2 separate regions of the Homo sapiens genome follow, and region 1 is linked to region 2. Evidence: fine-mapped expression QTL. Tissue or cell type: whole blood. Region 2 holds a variant in brackets; the other region holds the start of a gene. All regions are shown on one strand. Distances are between the middles of the regions.

Region 1 (8,137 bases), 190 kb after region 2:
AGCCCCAACATTGCATAGGAGAGAAGTTAACTCATTACATACAACAAATGCCTAGGGCACTAGGCTTTAATTCTCTGTGATCTAATCTATCGCATCAGTTGGTTTGTTTCCTTCATAACACTCAACTACACCCCATGATTGTCTGGATTATCATTTGTTTATTTCTTTATTGTCTGTTACCCTACTCTAGAATGTGAGCTCCATGAAGGCAAGGATCTTGTCTGTGTTGGTCAGCCTGAATGCCAAACACCTAGCACAATGCCTGTTACATCACAAATGTACAGTAAGAATTCATTGATAAATGAAAAGTATAAAACCACCTTTGCAAAATTTTAACTGAGGAACTTATGAAGTGAAAGAAAGCAGACCTAACTGACCCCATCTTGCTTCTAACCTTTAAGTTGTCCTCGTTCATTCCTGGGCATAGGCTGAACTAACTTTGGGAAAGAATTCAGTTCATGACTCTGAAACAAAATTGATAATAGCCCTTTGCCAAAAAGACCCCCTTCTTGCCTAGGGACCAGTCTGCCTTTGCAGGACTAACAAATTAGCTACAAGATTAGAAATTACAGTTTAAGGCCGGGAGTGGTGGCTCACACCTGTAATCCCAGAACTTTGGGAGACTGAGGTGGATGGATCACTTGAGGCCAGGAGTTTGAGACCAGCCTGGCCAACAATGTGAAACCTCATCTCTACTAAAAATACAAAAATTAGCTGGACGTGGTGGTGCATGCTTGTAATTTCAGCTACTAGGGAGGCTGAGGCACGAGAATCGCTTCAACTCGGGAGGTGGAGGTTGCAGTGAGCTGAGATTGCACCCCTGCACTCCAGCCTGGGCGGTAGACTAAGACTCCGTCTCAAAAAAAAAAAAAAAAAAAAAAATTACAGTTTAGGGGTCATGCAGCCTCTGACTCCAAGAGCCTGAACCTCCCAAATTGCTCCTGGAATAACATCACTATTTCAAAACCTAAGATCAGTATTTGAGATATTTTGCAGACCCTGCAGTTGATGGATCTGCTGACACCATCCAGACCGGTAATCTGGCTCAACCAGTTCTGCATTGCACCCAGGAGCAGAAAACAGCAAGAAAACCTCATTTTGACCCCCTATGTTTCCATCTCCAACCTGACCAATCAGCACTCCCCACTTCTCAAGACCCCACCAGCCAAATTATCTTTAAAAACTCCACAAGGTCAGGAGATGGAGACAATCCTGGCTAACACGGTGATAGTCCGTTTCTACTACAAAAATACAAAAAAAAAATTAGCCAGGCGTGGTGGCGGGCGCCTGCAGTACCAGCTACTCGGGAGGCTGAGGCAGGAGAATGGCGGGAACCCAGAAGGCGGAGCTTGCAATGAGCCGAGATCACGCCGCTGCACTCAAGCCTGGGAGACGGAGCGAGACTCCGTCTCAAAAAAACAAACAAACAAAAAACTCCGATCCCCAGGCTGGGCGCAGTGGTTCATGCCTGTAATCCCAGTACTTTGGGAGGCCGAGGAGGGTGGATCACCTGAGGTCAGGAGTTCAAGCCCAGCCTGACCAACGTGGCGAAAAAAATAAATAAAACGAAATGCTTGATTTTTCATCTGAATTTCATATGGCATACTTGACTCCAAACAACTTTAGAAAGCTACATCCACAGAAAACAAAATTGTAGGAAACTGAATAATAAGTTATTTTTATTTTGGCTAATAACATTATCCAAAAATAAAGACAATAGATTTGCAATGTTAATTACTTTCTTGAGGAAAGAAAAGTCACTTGTTTTAAAATATTTATTTATTTATTTATTTATTTATTTATTTGAGACGGAGTCTCGCTGTGTCACCACGCTGGAGTGCAGTGGCGCGATCTCAGCTCACTGCAACCTCTACCTCCCGGGTTCAAGCGATTCTCCTGCCTCAGCCTCCCGAGTAGCTGGGACTACAGGCACCCACCACCATGACCAGCTAATTTTTTATTTTTAGTAGAGACAGGGTTTCACCATGTTGACCAGGATGGTCTCGTTCTCTTGACCTCGTGATCCGCCGAAAAGTCACAGTTTTACAGGCAAATGAAGCATTGCTAAGAATTTTAAAGACTCTCCGAACGTTGATATTTTACTACAAAATGTTCTCTTTACAGTGTTAACATGCTTCAAAAAGCAAAGGAAAAAAAAACAGTATGGTGGCTTCTCAAAAAATTAAACACAGAATTACCACATGATCCAGCAATTCTTCTGGATATATACCCAAAAGAATTGAAAGTAGGGACTCAGATATTTGTACACCCATGTTCATTGCAGCATTATTCACCATAGCCTAAAGGTACAAACAACCCAAATGTCCACAGAAAGATGGGATAAACCAAAGATGTTATATACGTACAATTGAGTATTATTCAGCCTTCAAAAGGAAGGATATTCTAACGCATGCTACAACATGGGTGAGCCTTGAAGACATTATGCTAGGTGAAAGAAGCCACTCACAAAAGGACAATATTGTATGATCCCACTTATATGAGGTATCCAGAGTAATCATAGAGACAGAAAGTAGAATGATGGTTACCAGGGGCTGGAGAATGAGGAGTTAGTGTTTAATGGGTACAGTTTCAGTTTGGGAAGATGAAAAAGTTCTGGAGCTGGATGGTGGTGATGGTTGCAGAACAATGTCAATGTACTTAATGCCACTGAACTGTACACTTAAAAAGGATTAAAATGGTAAATTTCATGTGATATATATTTAACCACAAGTTTTTAAAAAGCAAAGGGAAGGAGAAACATATACAGCATGGGATGAGATTTGTGAAATATTTATTTTTGTTGTGCATGCACAGTCATAGACTCGCCGCCTTCTTCAGAATCCTCTAGGTAGATTCCAGAAACGTGAGGCGCAGCAATTCCAGCAACATAGCCAAGCTGTGTAACTTCGTGGTCTTTAAACAAACAACGGGAATACTGCGGGGATTCAGAAACTGAGTCGGAGGAGGAGTTCTGACAGCCCTGCCCAGTTCTTGCTTCTGTCATTTCTTGCTCTCAAATTCTCAAAGATGTCCTGAGAGACTTTCCTCAGAAAAAAATGGGACAGATAGAGGCGAACCCCAGCGAGTATTGTGTGGCATAATAAGGGAAACTGCCTCGGGGTAGCAAAGAGGACAGCATCACACGCAGACAGGAATCGACTTGGACTTCTCTGAATGGAATTTTGACTTTTTTCTAGGTTGGAGGGTGGTGTCGGGAGTGGGGGAACAGCAAGAGTGGAGGAACTTGTCCGCAGCCGGGGCTGCACGTAGGACTGCGTGAGGCCGAGGCCCGACGAGCCGTGTCGGCGCGCTGCGGCGGGGGCGGGCCCCCGTGCCTCAGTTTCCCCGGTGGCCGTTCTGGGAGCGACGCCCCTCTGACGTCGCGAGGCGAGCAGGGCCGGGCCGGCCGCCAGGGGGCGCGAGCGCGGGGCGGGCGCCGGAGAGGTGGGCGCGCGGGCAGCGGAGCTTGGCGCCCCCGGGGCCGCGCGGACCGCGCCGGCAGAGGCGGAAGCCTGAGCGGGAGGCGGGGCGGCGCGCTGACTCACACGGGATCGACCCGCCCGCCGCTTCCAGGGGCGGAGGTGACAGCGGGCTGGGGACTGGCGGCTGCAACTGCCTGCCGCGCCGAGGGACCGCCGGGCGGCGGAAAGCAGGTCAGAGGCCGGGCCAGGCCGGAGCCGGGCGGGGGCCGGGCGGGGAGCGGGGGTCGCGGTCCGGGGCCGCGGGCGGAGGGGACCCGCACCCCGAGAGACGCGCCGCGCCGCGCCGCGCGGCTAGGCCTGTATCGGCCCTTTCCCAGCGGCGGCGCTGTGCTGCGCTCTGTGGGCCAGGAGCCCGCGAGGGACAGTGGGGCGCAGCGGGCCCCCTCGCACTCCTGTAGTCCCCGGGAGTTGGAGGGGTGGTCAGAGCAATGCGAACGTGGGCTTTTCAAGCGGTGTCAAGCCCAGGGCTCTTTCTCTGCACCGCCCTGCCACTCCGGCAATGAGGCGGAATTTTGAGAGCTGGAAAAAGAATTCTGCGTTAGTCCACCCCGCTGATTTTACAGATGTTCGGAGCCTTACGGCATAGGAGGCCGTGATTCTGTGTCAGGGAGACAGGGACAGATGGCTTCCGAAGCAAGGGTTAGACCTGTTCAGCTGGAGATGCAGCTTTGGTCATGGTGGAGTTTTGCAGAAACCCGCGGACACCCGCGTTCCTGCTGCAGGCACAGATGTCCACCGGGCATCTGTGTCTCAAAGGGTGGTGATGCTGTCACTTTAGTAAAGGAATATTGAGGTTACCAAACAGGCCGGGGCCTGATGCAGATGAGGAGTATAGACTTAAATTTTAAGTGCAAAAACAACTTTAAATGCAGTCTCATTATTACTGCCTGTCTCATTTGTACTGTAATGAAGGGTGAATATTTTTGGCACTCACTTATTCTGGAATATGGGTAACTTGCCTTTAGGTCTGTTTTATAGTAATTCTTTTACACAAACATGAAGATCTTGTATTAAAACACTTTCATAACTAATGATGCTGTAGTATGTGGCAGGCGAGTGGTAACGCTAATATTTAGGGTTTGAGCATAGTCTAGCTCTGCTTGTTTACATAGCTGAGTTAAACGGATGAGCAGGACTGATTAATCTGTAGTAGTTTTTGCAAGACTGAAGTACCTGACAGCATTCGGGGATCATTTCTCAGTTGGTGTTCCGTTTATTACTTTCACAGCATGAATACCGACACGGTGATCAGCAAGTTAGTTTATCCTCTACCCATTTTTCTCTAAAATATTGAATTAAAGGATCTCTAAGGTCCTCTTCTGTCTCGAGTTCTCCGATTTTACATGTTAACTTGAAACACGTCACTCATTGTGATAATAAAAATGTTTTAAGAAGAAAAGATTTTTAGAATTCTGCATAATGGGGCATAGCGAATCTTCAAATTCATTATTCTCAGCTCTCTCAGTCACTTTATCAGGGTTGGGCTAAAATAAGTGAAAAGTGACTTTTCAAATTGCAGATACTTACGTGTTAAATTCACTTAAATTCAGAGGCTGCAATGGAGTGATTTCTGGAGGGTGGAGAGTAGCTCAAGTCTGGCTTGGGAACGGGGTTCGTGCAGTGCACTGATAACTTTTGCAATAAGCCAAGAACAGTCTGACTCAGAGAATGTGATAAATTGACTTTTATACAGTGTTCATATTGTGTATTTTTTGGCTGAGATAATAATAATCTTCATAAACGATCTGTTTAAATATGCACCAGTTATTTATTTGTCTTGCAGCCCCAAGGCAGGGCATTTCCCTCAACGTTCCATCAATCTCTTCCTCTTTTCTGGCTCCTGACTTCAGGTGATCCGCCTGCCTCAGCCTCCCAAAATGCTGGGATTACAGGCGTGAGCCACCGAGCCTGGCTTTTGGCTTATTTTCTAGGTTTAGTATTCTGTTGTTTCTAGAGTCAGCTAATGGATTACCTACAACATGGTATTATTACGAGATTATCTCCTGTGAAATTCTCGAATGTGCTTGATCATCTGCCAAAGCATCCTTAGAATTCATTCAGAATACTTCTGGAAAGTTTTGCAACACCAATTCAATTAATATGAAATAGTTTCTTATTATACACACTCTGGAAAACATCTGAATAAGCTAATTTTCAAGATTGGTTAACTTAGTCTTGTTGGTCAGGAGTTAATTATGAGTTATTAGTTTCTTGCCTGGAAAGGCAGAAAGTTCTTAAGTAGCAGCAGTAAAATGAGCTCTTTAATGAAAGAGCCGTTAAACCAAGATGTTAACTTTTAGTTGTGTTCTTTATCCTCCCTGCTATGAAAGGCAGCTGTGGGAGGTGAAATAGAGTAGCTAAAATGTATTATTTCATTTTTAGATTTCTAGATCTTTTCTTCTGACTGAAGGACGTGACCACCAAGAATTGAACCAGCACTTGAGGGCAGGCACATAGGGCATTGTGTGAGGAGTCTGAAGGCATGGCTTTTGGTCCTTACTTGTTTATTCACTGAACACATTCTCACTGAGCACCTGTGTGTGCTGAGAGGGTGGGCACCTGTGTGTGCCGGGAGGAGGAACACCTGTATGTGCTTGTGGGGGGCACCTGTGTGTGCCGGGGTCGTGGTAGCACTTGTGTATGCTGTGGGTGCTGGGAGGGGGAACCAGTTTGAACAAAACAGACTAAGCCCTCGTGGAACAGACACATTCTAATTGGGTGGAAACAGACAAATATGTGAATGAATAGGTCAAAGGATCATAATGCTGTGGAGAACTTTAGAGTCAGGAAAGGGTAAGAGTGTGTGTGTGTGTATGTATATGTGTGGTAGGGGATTTACTTTTTATATAGAGGGGTCAAATAAAGCCTCTACTGAGATAACTTTTTTTTTTTTGGAGACAGAGTCTTGCTCTGTCACCCAGGCTGGAGTGCAGTGGCGTGATCACAGCTCACTGTAGCCTCAACCTCCTGGGCTCAAGTGATCCTCCCATCTCAGCCTCCCGAGTAAGCTGGGACTGCAGGCTTATATCACCACGCTGGGCCAATGTTTGTATTTTTAGTAGACGCGGGGTTTCACTATGTCGCTCAGGCTGGTCTGGAACTCCTGGCCTCAAGCGATCCACCCACCTTGGCCTCCCAAAGTGCTGGGATTACAGGCATGGGCCACCACACCTGGCCTAACTCATGGTGGGAGACTGGAAGGAAATGAGGAAGTGAGCAGGAGGCAGTGGGATGAGCATGTTCCAAACCCTGGTGCAGGAGCATGCTTGGCATGTTAGGGGTGGCAAGGTCATGGTGGCCAGTCAGTGTGGATGTGGGTTGGGGGGAGGTGGCAGCAGATGAGAGGGGGTGGGAGTGGGGAGGACACATCAGTGTAGGTCATTGTAAGGATTTTGGCCTTTACACTGAGTGAGGGGGAAGCCGTTGGAGAGCTTTGAACAGTGAAGTTGATGATGACTTATGTTTTAAAAGGATAACTGGCTGCTGGGTTGAGAATAGACAGGAAGAGGACAAGGGCTGAGTCAGGGAGACCTTTTCAAGCTAGAGCTGTGTGACTCACACCATAATTCTTCCCTGAGTCTTCGTTTCCTCATCTGTAAAATAACTGGGCCCTCTCTAGCTCAAGAATTTTAAGTTTTCAAGTAGTGCAGGGTATTATTTCTACAGGGAGGCAAGAGGATTGCGTGGGAAGAGGTTCTGAAAGTAAATCGCTTCAGATGACCTGAAAACTTGACACCAACCTGCCTGTAGCTGAATCATCCCAAATCAAGAGGTAATCAGGTCTTTTTCAGTCAGATTGTCAGGTCATGAGAACAAAAACACTGTTTCGTAAATATTCTCTGCTCATCCCTTTTGTACTTTGCTGATCCCTGAATTTTCCCTTCCTGATTGAAAAAGGATGAAAAGCTGTTACTCATCAACAGAACTGGCAACCAGAGTAGCTTTTGTTGTTTGGAAAATTGGGAACTTTGGGGAAGGAAACAATTCTGTGTTTATCGTAGGTCATAAGAGTTTTTCTTTTATAACACGCAAGGAATCTAAAAGATTGGTTTTGTTGTAGAATTCCCTTGTCCCATTCATCTCATGTCTCACAGGTGTTCATTCTTAATGCATTGCATGTGCTTCCTTTTGTTTATGTAGGAGCTTGCAAAGTGGGAATGTTTGTTTTATGTGTATGTATCTTGATTTATAATGCTGTAATTCATTTTCCTTTATGTAGTTTGGTTTTTTTTTTTTTTTTTTTTGGAGACTTTTGAGACAAGAGTCTCACTCTGTTGCCCAGGCTGGAGTACAGTGGCGAGATCTCGGCTCACTGCAGCCTCCGCCTCCCGGGTTCAAGCCATTTCCTGCCTCAGCCTCTTGAGTAGCTGGAATTACAGTCATGCGCCACCACGCCCAGCTAATTTTTTTGTATTTTAGTAGAGACGGGGTTTCACCATGTTGGCCAGGCTGGTCTCGAACTCCTGACCTCAGGTGATCCGCCTGCCTTGGCCTCCCAAAGTACTGGGATTACAGGTATGAACCACCATGCCAGGTCTCTGAGTAGTGTTTTTAAGATCCATCCATATTGTTATGTGTCTAATTCTCTGCTTTGGAATGCTGCATTTATACCCCATGCTGTTTGCATCCATTGGTTTTGCTTTATCTGCTCTCTG
Region 2 (8,200 bases):
TGAGCCATCACACCTGGCTCTTGTGTGTATTCTTAAACCTGGATTGTTGGTCCAGAATATGAAATTTATTATTCAGAGGTAGGAAAGACTCAGAGGAGATGGGACTTGATTTAGAACTTGAAAGAAATAATTTGGATTAGCAGAGAGAAAAAGAGTATTCCAGGTTGCAGAAAAGCAAGCAAAAAAGACAGATACAGGAATAATCTCAAGCTCTGTGAGTGTAGCGATTGTGTCATTTTTATTTCCCCCCTTGTATGTGGAGCGGGGCTTAAGTATTGCAGGTGCTCTGTAAATGTATATTGAACTGAATTAAATGGAAACAAGTGGTTCTTTTAGCATCAGTTTCTAGCATCTATGGGAATCCTGTTTGTGTGGACAGGAAATCACAAAGAATGATAAATCAACTCTAAAATCCTCAAAAGTAACTAACCTCCCTTGCCCTTTTTCTCATCTTCTTGTATATAGTACAGGACAGCAAAATACAGCTTCCAATTATACAGCTGCGTAAAGTGTGGGCTGAAGCAGTGCACTATGTGTCTGGACTAAAAGAAGACTATAGCAGGCTCTTTCAGGGACAAAGGGCAGCAATGTAAGTGGATTCTGTTGTTTATAAGCACAATGCAATGTGCATCATATACTCAAGAATTAATCTTGCCGGTTTTCACTAATCAATATTGCATGTAATAGTAACATACTGGGCCAATTTGAAGTGTAATGTTCTGATAAACTTGTAGAATTCTTACTAATGGACTGAGACCATTCTATTGTAATGGCTTGAGGGTAATAATTCCCATACGGTCCTAGTATAAAAAGATTGTTTATCACAAAATATTATAGGCAGGAAGTCTTTAGAGATCAGATTCTAGAGCTCAGTTATTTCTCATAGATTGATAATAGAAACTTAGGCTTTGGCCTTGTGGCAGTTTATGTTTTTACATTATTGTTCAATGTTTCTGAATGCTGATAATATCTTTTTTCTTTTTCTTTTTTTTCTTGCTGTGGTTTAGGTTAAGTCTTCTTAGATATAATGCTAACTTAACAAAAATGAAGAACACTTTGATCTCAGCATCACAACAACTGAAAGCTAAATTGGAGTTTTTTCACAAAAGCATTCAGCTTGACTTGGAGAGATACAGCGAGCAGATGACGTATGGGATATGTAAGTGTCTGTGTAATGTATTTGAAAGGAGCATCTGGTTTCTTGAAGCCATCTGTTATTTTGCCTTCTTAACTCAGCCAGTTGTTTTACTTACCTTCACATTAGAACAAGAGACAGGACAACTTAAATTAACATAAACCATGTTTGTTTTGAATGTTACCTCTTTTTTTAAATTTGCTTAGTTGAGCAATTTAGCTTCACAATTGGGCTAAAATTATTTAGCTCTAAAAAAATACAGGTGCGATTTAATAATCTTGAATTTCAAACCTGATTTTAAAATAAATACAAAATCTGGACTTCTTAGCCAGTGCTGTGGACTGAATGTATCCCCCCCAAAATACATATGTTGAAATTCTGACCCTGAAGGTGAAGGTGTTGGTAGGTGGAGCCTTTGGGAAGTGATTAGGTCATGAGAGTAGAGCCTTCCTGTTTGGGATTAATGCTCTTACAAAAGAGACCTGAATGAGATCCCTCATCCCTTCTGCATGTGAGGACAGAGCAAGAAGATGGTCATCTAGGAACCAGAAAGCAGGCCCTCAAATCTGCCTTGTTCTTGGACTTCCCAGCCTCCAGAACTATAAGAAATAAATTTCTGTTGTTTTTATGGCACTTAGTCTATGGTATTTTGTTATAGTAGTCCAAATGGACTAAGACAACCAGGGGAGTCTTAAACTGCTTACTTTTCTGTAAATAATGACACAAATATTCTAAGGCTATGTTTTTTTCAAACCATCTACTGTGGAGTCCTACTATTTTTTAGTGTACACAGTCTCCAAATTTTCCATATTTGACTCCAAGCTTATCTCCTTCAGATGTACTAAGGAAGTGTAAAAAAACAGAGTTAAAATATGAGTAAATTGAAGGAGTCATACTACCAGCATTTCTGTTTTCTTTTATAAAACAAATCCTTTTTAGGAAACAAATACTTGTTTCCTAAAAACATATACTTGTCCTGAGCAAACTCTGTGTATCTCAGAGTAAACAATCAATAGTGTCCAGTTGGGTGAATGAATTTACTCTCCAGAACTGGTTTTATTAATATTATTGATATTTTATTTCTATTTATATATTATTGATATTTTATTTCTATTTGTATATTATTGACATTCTGGTGAGTGATAAAACATTATAATTATTTCATTAAAATATCTTAGACTTGTCAAAGGCTTATTATACAATTGTTAAAGAAAAATGAGGTAGATCTATATGTGCTTTTATTAAAAGATCACCTAAGTCTTTAGTTGACAGTTTTAAATTGTGGGAAAAAATAAAGAGTATACAGATGTTTTCACTTGTGAGGGAGCAGGCTATGTGTCTATGTAACAGATAATCATAGTAAGGTCCCTTGAGGTGGATGGTAGAGGGGTAGAAGAGAGAGTCTTTTCTGTTTATATCCTTTTATAGTATTTAATTTTTAAAAATCATATTCAAGTATTAAATTTCTTTTCTGGCCAGGTGGTGACTCACGCCTGTAATCCCAACACTTTGGGAGGCCAAAGCAGGTGGATCCCTTGAGCTCAGGAATTCAAGACTAACCTGGGCAACATGGGGTAGAACGCCATCTCTACAAAAAATGTAAAAATTAGCCGGGCATGGTGGTGCACACCTCAGCTATTCAGGAGGCTAAGGTGGGAGGATCGCTTGAGCCCTGGAGATAGAGGTTGCGGTGAGCTGAGATCATGCCACTGCACTCCAGCCTGGGTGACAGAGTGAGACTCTACCTCAAAAAAAAATTTTTTTTGTTGTTTTTTCCTTTATCCACCCATCTGCACACTGGTATAAATATATATATTTTTAAGAAAAAAGTCATCTGTATTCATTTCCTAAGGGTTCCATAACAAAATCCCATAAACTGAGTGGCTTAAGCAATGGAAACTTACTGTCTCACAGCCCTGGAGGCTAAAAGTCCAAAATTGAGGTGTTGGCAGGGCCATGTTTTCTCTGAAATCTGTAGAGAAGAATCTTTCCTTGTTTCTCTCTAGCTTCTTATGGTCTGCTAGCCATCATTGGCATTCCTTGGCTTACAGCTGCAGCACCTCAATCTGTCTCCATTGTCACAGAGCATTCTCCCCTGTGTATCTGTATCCTGTGTCTCTTCTAAGTACACTGGTCGTACTGGACTAAGGGCCCAGACCATTCCAGTATGAGTATTAATTTATCTGATTACTTCTGTAATGACCTTATTTCCAAATAGGTCACATTCTGAGGTATTAGGGGTTAGGAATTCCACATATCTTTTGGGGGACCACAATTCAACTCATAACACATCTTTGATGTTGATATGGCAAGGAGGCAGGCAGCCAGTAATTAAAGATATGGCTATTTCTGAGATAACCAATTTAGACTTTTCTTTTAGCTTCAGAAAAAATGCTAAAAGCATGGAAAGAAATGGAAGAAAAGGCCATCCACTATGCTGAGGTAAAATCATTGACGTCATTCTGTATACTTATTAATTCTTGATGTCTCCATTAGAAACTATCTTTGGTTTTGATATATAAAGAGCATTTTTCATGTCATTCCTGAAATTCAGACAAAATTCTAGTAGATGCTTTGTATATAAAGAGGGATGTATCATAGTGATTAAAAACAAGGGCTTTGGGAAAATTACCTAGTGCCTCACTGAGCTTCAGTTTCCTTTATTTATTTATTTTTTGAAACAGGGTCTCACTCTGTTGCCCAGGTTGGAGTGTAGTGGCATGATCAAAGCTCACTGCAGCCTCGACTTCCCAGGCTCAAGCAGTCCTCCCATCTTAGCCTCCTGTGTAGCTGGGACAAGAGGTGCACCACCATGCCTGGCTAACTTTTACATTTTTTGTAGAGACGGGGTCTCACTATGTTGTCCAGGCTTGTATCAAACTCCTGGGCTTAAGCAATCCTCCCACCTCAGCCTCCCATAGAGCTGGGATTATAGGCATGAGCCACCACATCCAGCTAGTTTCCATATTATAGGGACAATTTCTTTTCTAGTAGGGTTATGAAGATTAAATGGGAGTCAGTAATGGTAGTTGTCACTATTATTTTTGTGACTGGTTTAGATAGGATGGCTGCACATCCTGGTTTACCTGGGACTGTCCCAGTTTATACTTAATGTCTTGCCATAATTATCAGTAGTAGTCCCTTTCACTCTCAAAATTATGCCGGTTTGGACAATAAATTATATGGTGTCCCTAGGTATAGCTCATTCTCTAGGTGGCAGATTTTTTCCCCTTATCCTGTACATTTGTCCACGGTCCTAAGTTATTACACTCCTTAATGTCAGTACTTACCCTGAGGATGTGGGTGGGGATACCCATGGTGTCCTGGGGTGGGAAATCCAAGTTCTTTATCTTTTTGTGTCCCTATTCAAGGTAGTGGGGACCAGGGGGCAGTCAAAATCATAGAGCCAAGATACAAGTAATACCAATGGTTTTGGTGGTCCTTTTTCTTTCTTGTTAGTTGATACCTGTTGTAGCTTTTTGCTTCTCCGGAGGTAAAAGCAAATACTAGTAGTTTACTGTTGTCAGGAGAGAAAAGAGAGAAGACTAAGACTAAGTATGTTCTTATGTGAAAGATTAAGTGTCAGAATCTGAAGAATAGAAAGGCTTTAACAAAATCAGTGTTTCGTATTATATTATTTAGTTCTCTAATGAAGCAGCAAGTCATTCTGTATCCTTAAGATCTGAATTTTGTTTCCTATGATGTAGTGGTAAGCCTTTCATTTCCTTTGTATTTTCATCATATTTTAGGTTGGTGTCATTGGATACCTGGAGGATCAGATTATGTCTTTGCATGCTGAAATCATGGAGCTACAGAAGAGCCCCTATGGAAGACGTCAGGGAGACTTGATGGAATCTCTGTAAGGATGCACTTGTGTTGTTGGTCTTGAC[A/G]TCTGTAATATTTTGTATTCTTTCTGCTTACATCTGGCAAATTAAACCTCTAGTGGTTCTTTTCTATAGTTTTCCTTTCCCCAAATATATTGGCATTATATTTAAAATGGAAGCTTTTTCTCAGTCACAGGAAACTTCGGAAATAATTCTTTGGGTTGGCCTTTTTTGGTTTTTAATAAAAGCATTTATTTCATAGGAGTGTTAAGAATTTTCCAAGTATAACTAAGTTACAAACTATTTCCCTACTCATTATACCTCTGGTCCAAGGTATTGACTCTTAAATGCCCTAAAACTTGAAATTTTTTCTGAATTAAAGTTCTGGATTAAAAACTTCAGATATTTTCTCGAATTATAGGTCATAATTTTTGTCTTTTTAAGTGTCTGTGGTGCAGAGATGTCCCCATGATAGATCAGAATAGATATGAACTATATTAAACTTTGCATTTTAAGAACTTGTATAGTTCTTATTACTCAATACAATGCTCTGTGAAATACTTGTTGGCAATATGAACTTGCTTTAAAATGGGTTCATTATTCAAATAAAATATTGTTTCAAGTTGTAGATTATTGAAGTCATTAAATTACCTTCACTTATCAGAGCGTGTTTTCTCTTTTATAGGGAACAGCGTGCCATTGATCTATATAAGCAGTTAAAACACAGACCTTCAGGTAAGACACTTCTACCACAGTGCTTGAAGGCATTTTAGGTAACTATCACTAGCCTAACAAATGTGGGGGATCTAATATTTTTAAGTTAAAAATTTTCTTAAAGCTGCAGAATAAATTCCAGTTTTGGTATTGCCATTGAGACATGGTATAATAAGCTTTAAGATTGTGAGAATTTAGGAGATGATAAAGAGAAAGTAACAGAGAACGTGAGGTAGAAAAATTTTAGAAGGGGACGTGAAAAGAAAGAATGGAAGACAGAAAAAAGGAACTCAGAGAGGAAAAAGCAGCAAGAAAATGTTTAGAAAGATGGAAAAAATAAGTGTTGCTTAAGATTAGAGAGGTTGGGCCAGTTGTGGTGGCTCATGCCTGTAATCCCAGCACTTTGGGAGGCCAAGGTGGGTGGATCACCTGAGGTCAGGAGTTCAAAACCAGCTTGGCCAACATGGTGAAACCCCATCTCTACTAAAAATAGAAAAGTTAGCTGGGCATGTTGGCATGTGCCTGTAATCCCAGCTACTTGGGAGGATGAGGCAGGAGAATCGCTTGAACCTGGGAAGAGGAGGTTGCAGTGAGCCAAGATCACACCACTGCACTCCAGCCTGGGTGACAGAGCGAGATTCTGTCTCAAAACAAAACAAAAAAATATTATAGAGGTTGGAAAGAATTTGAGGCAGTGGGTTCAGGTATGGAATGGTTAGAGGGAAGGCCTGTGCTGTTCTAGGCCAAAGCAGATTGCTTTGAAAATAATGCCTTCATCTGCACTGGTCACTGATGACTTGTTTTGTTGGCAAAATAATTCCAGTTGAACATCTGCTAAATACTGAGCAAGGTCTGCTGGAAAGAGTACTGGATGGGGAATCAGAGGCTTGAATTCTAGATTGAGTAATTTACTGACCGTTACCTCAGGCAAATCTGCGTTTCCCATTTCCTTCTTCTGCAAAATGGGGTTGAAACCTAGCTTTCCTACTCAGTGAGTATATTGTGACAGTGTATTTAAGAGGATGTTTGTGAAAATGCTTTGAAAACTATAAACTATTATGTACTTGCAAGATATTATCATTTAGTTAAAAATTTGTTTTGAAGGGTAACAGAAGAAATAAAGTCTGTGCCCTAATGTGCATTATACTTAAATGCATGTTAAAAAAAGATATACTTTTACACTTTAAAATTTGTAGACACATAGCAACACATGCAAATTAATATACATGTGAAATTGTATTTCATATACTATTTTCACATTTAAAAAATAACATTATCTCCTCTTATACTGCTTTTATTTTACTGAAATGTATTCAGTTTAGTCTGACCAGCAGTTCTCAAAATGTGGCATATGGACCTGTGAGAATCCTTGAAACTTTGTCAGAGAGTCTGTGAGGTTAGAACCATTTTCATAATAAGATGTTATTTGCATTTTTCACCATGTTGACATTTTCATTGATGGTGCAACATAAAATGGCTTTCACCTTAGTATGAATCAAGGCACTAGCGCCAAACTATGCTAGTAGCCGTTATATTTTTTACCACCATGCAGTCACAGTTTTTAAAAAATGACAGTTTCACTTACAAATGTCCTTGATAAAGCAGTAAAAATATTATTTTATTTAAATCTCAACGCTTGAGTATGGGTTTTTAATATTTTGTGTGATGAAATGGGAAGTACTCATAAAGTGTTTCTTCTATACAGTGAAGTATGATGGTTGTCTTAAGGAAAACCACTTCAGTAATTGTTTACGTTGCTAGTTGTCTGGCCTCTTTCAGGGAAGATACCATTTTTACTTGGAAGAGCAACTGTCAGGCAAACTATGATTATTCAGATTTGCATACGTGAGATAATTTCTAAGAAATTAAATGAAAATAAAAAGTATAGCACACTTATTACTTTAAGGGAAAAAAGCAGTATTTGTTGTCAATGATAAAATTCCATGTTTCAAGCAAAAAGAATTTTAGAAAACTTGTATTTACCAGCTGGAATGACAGCTTCTCAGTACTTAAAAACTTTTCTGATGAGATTAGTGGTGATATCAGAAAGGTTTGCAAAAATGTAAAACAGTGCAAGTGTTCTCACTCAAATTTTTTTGTTTTAGAAAATATCGTTTTTTGGTTTTTGTTTTTAGAGGTGGGCTCTTGCTATGTTGACCAGGCTGGCCTTGGACTCCCTGGGTTCAAGTGATCCTTCCACTTCAGGCTTCCAAGTATCTCAAGTAGCAGTAACCAGTGAAAGGAGGTGGCTCTCGTAGATATGAGTATACTGTGTAGACACATGTATGTATAGCACTTAGCATGTCTGAGGAAATGCAGTATGACTGGAGTGTAGAGTTTCAGGAGAGAGAAAACCTAAATATAGGAGAGAGAGAAAACGTAAATATAGGTTTTTTTGTTTGTTTTTAATAAAAACATGTTAATGGGCAATAGGTTTGTTATTTTTAAATGAATTAAGACACGAGTATTTTTAAATTTCTGTTTAATTCCTGAAAAACCCTTTGGGGTTCTCAAGAATTTTCTAGTG

What was found. PIP is the estimated chance that this variant, and not a neighbour inherited with it, causes the effect.
Region 1: DNMBP starts here. The variant in region 2 is fine-mapped to the expression of DNMBP in whole blood (TOPMed, PIP above 0.99).

Annotation. Positions count from the first base shown.
Region 1 is chr10:100,005,354-100,013,490 of GRCh38, reverse strand. It overlaps DNMBP (dynamin binding protein), which reads left to right and starts at 3,544. Exons shown (of 17, transcript NM_015221.4): 1 at 3,544-3,653. RefSeq lists a silencer at 3,252-3,771 and enhancers at 6,428-6,487, 7,038-7,117.
Region 2 is chr10:100,197,465-100,205,664 of GRCh38, reverse strand. CHUK (component of inhibitor of nuclear factor kappa B kinase complex) reads left to right here. Exons shown (of 21, transcript NM_001278.5): 12 at 466-589; 13 at 1,008-1,159; 14 at 3,516-3,577; 15 at 4,885-4,994; 16 at 5,645-5,694. Among named protein-coding and RNA genes, the nearest start is that of ERLIN1, 16 kb to the right of the region's middle. The variant A/G (reference allele first, on the strand shown) is at 5,026.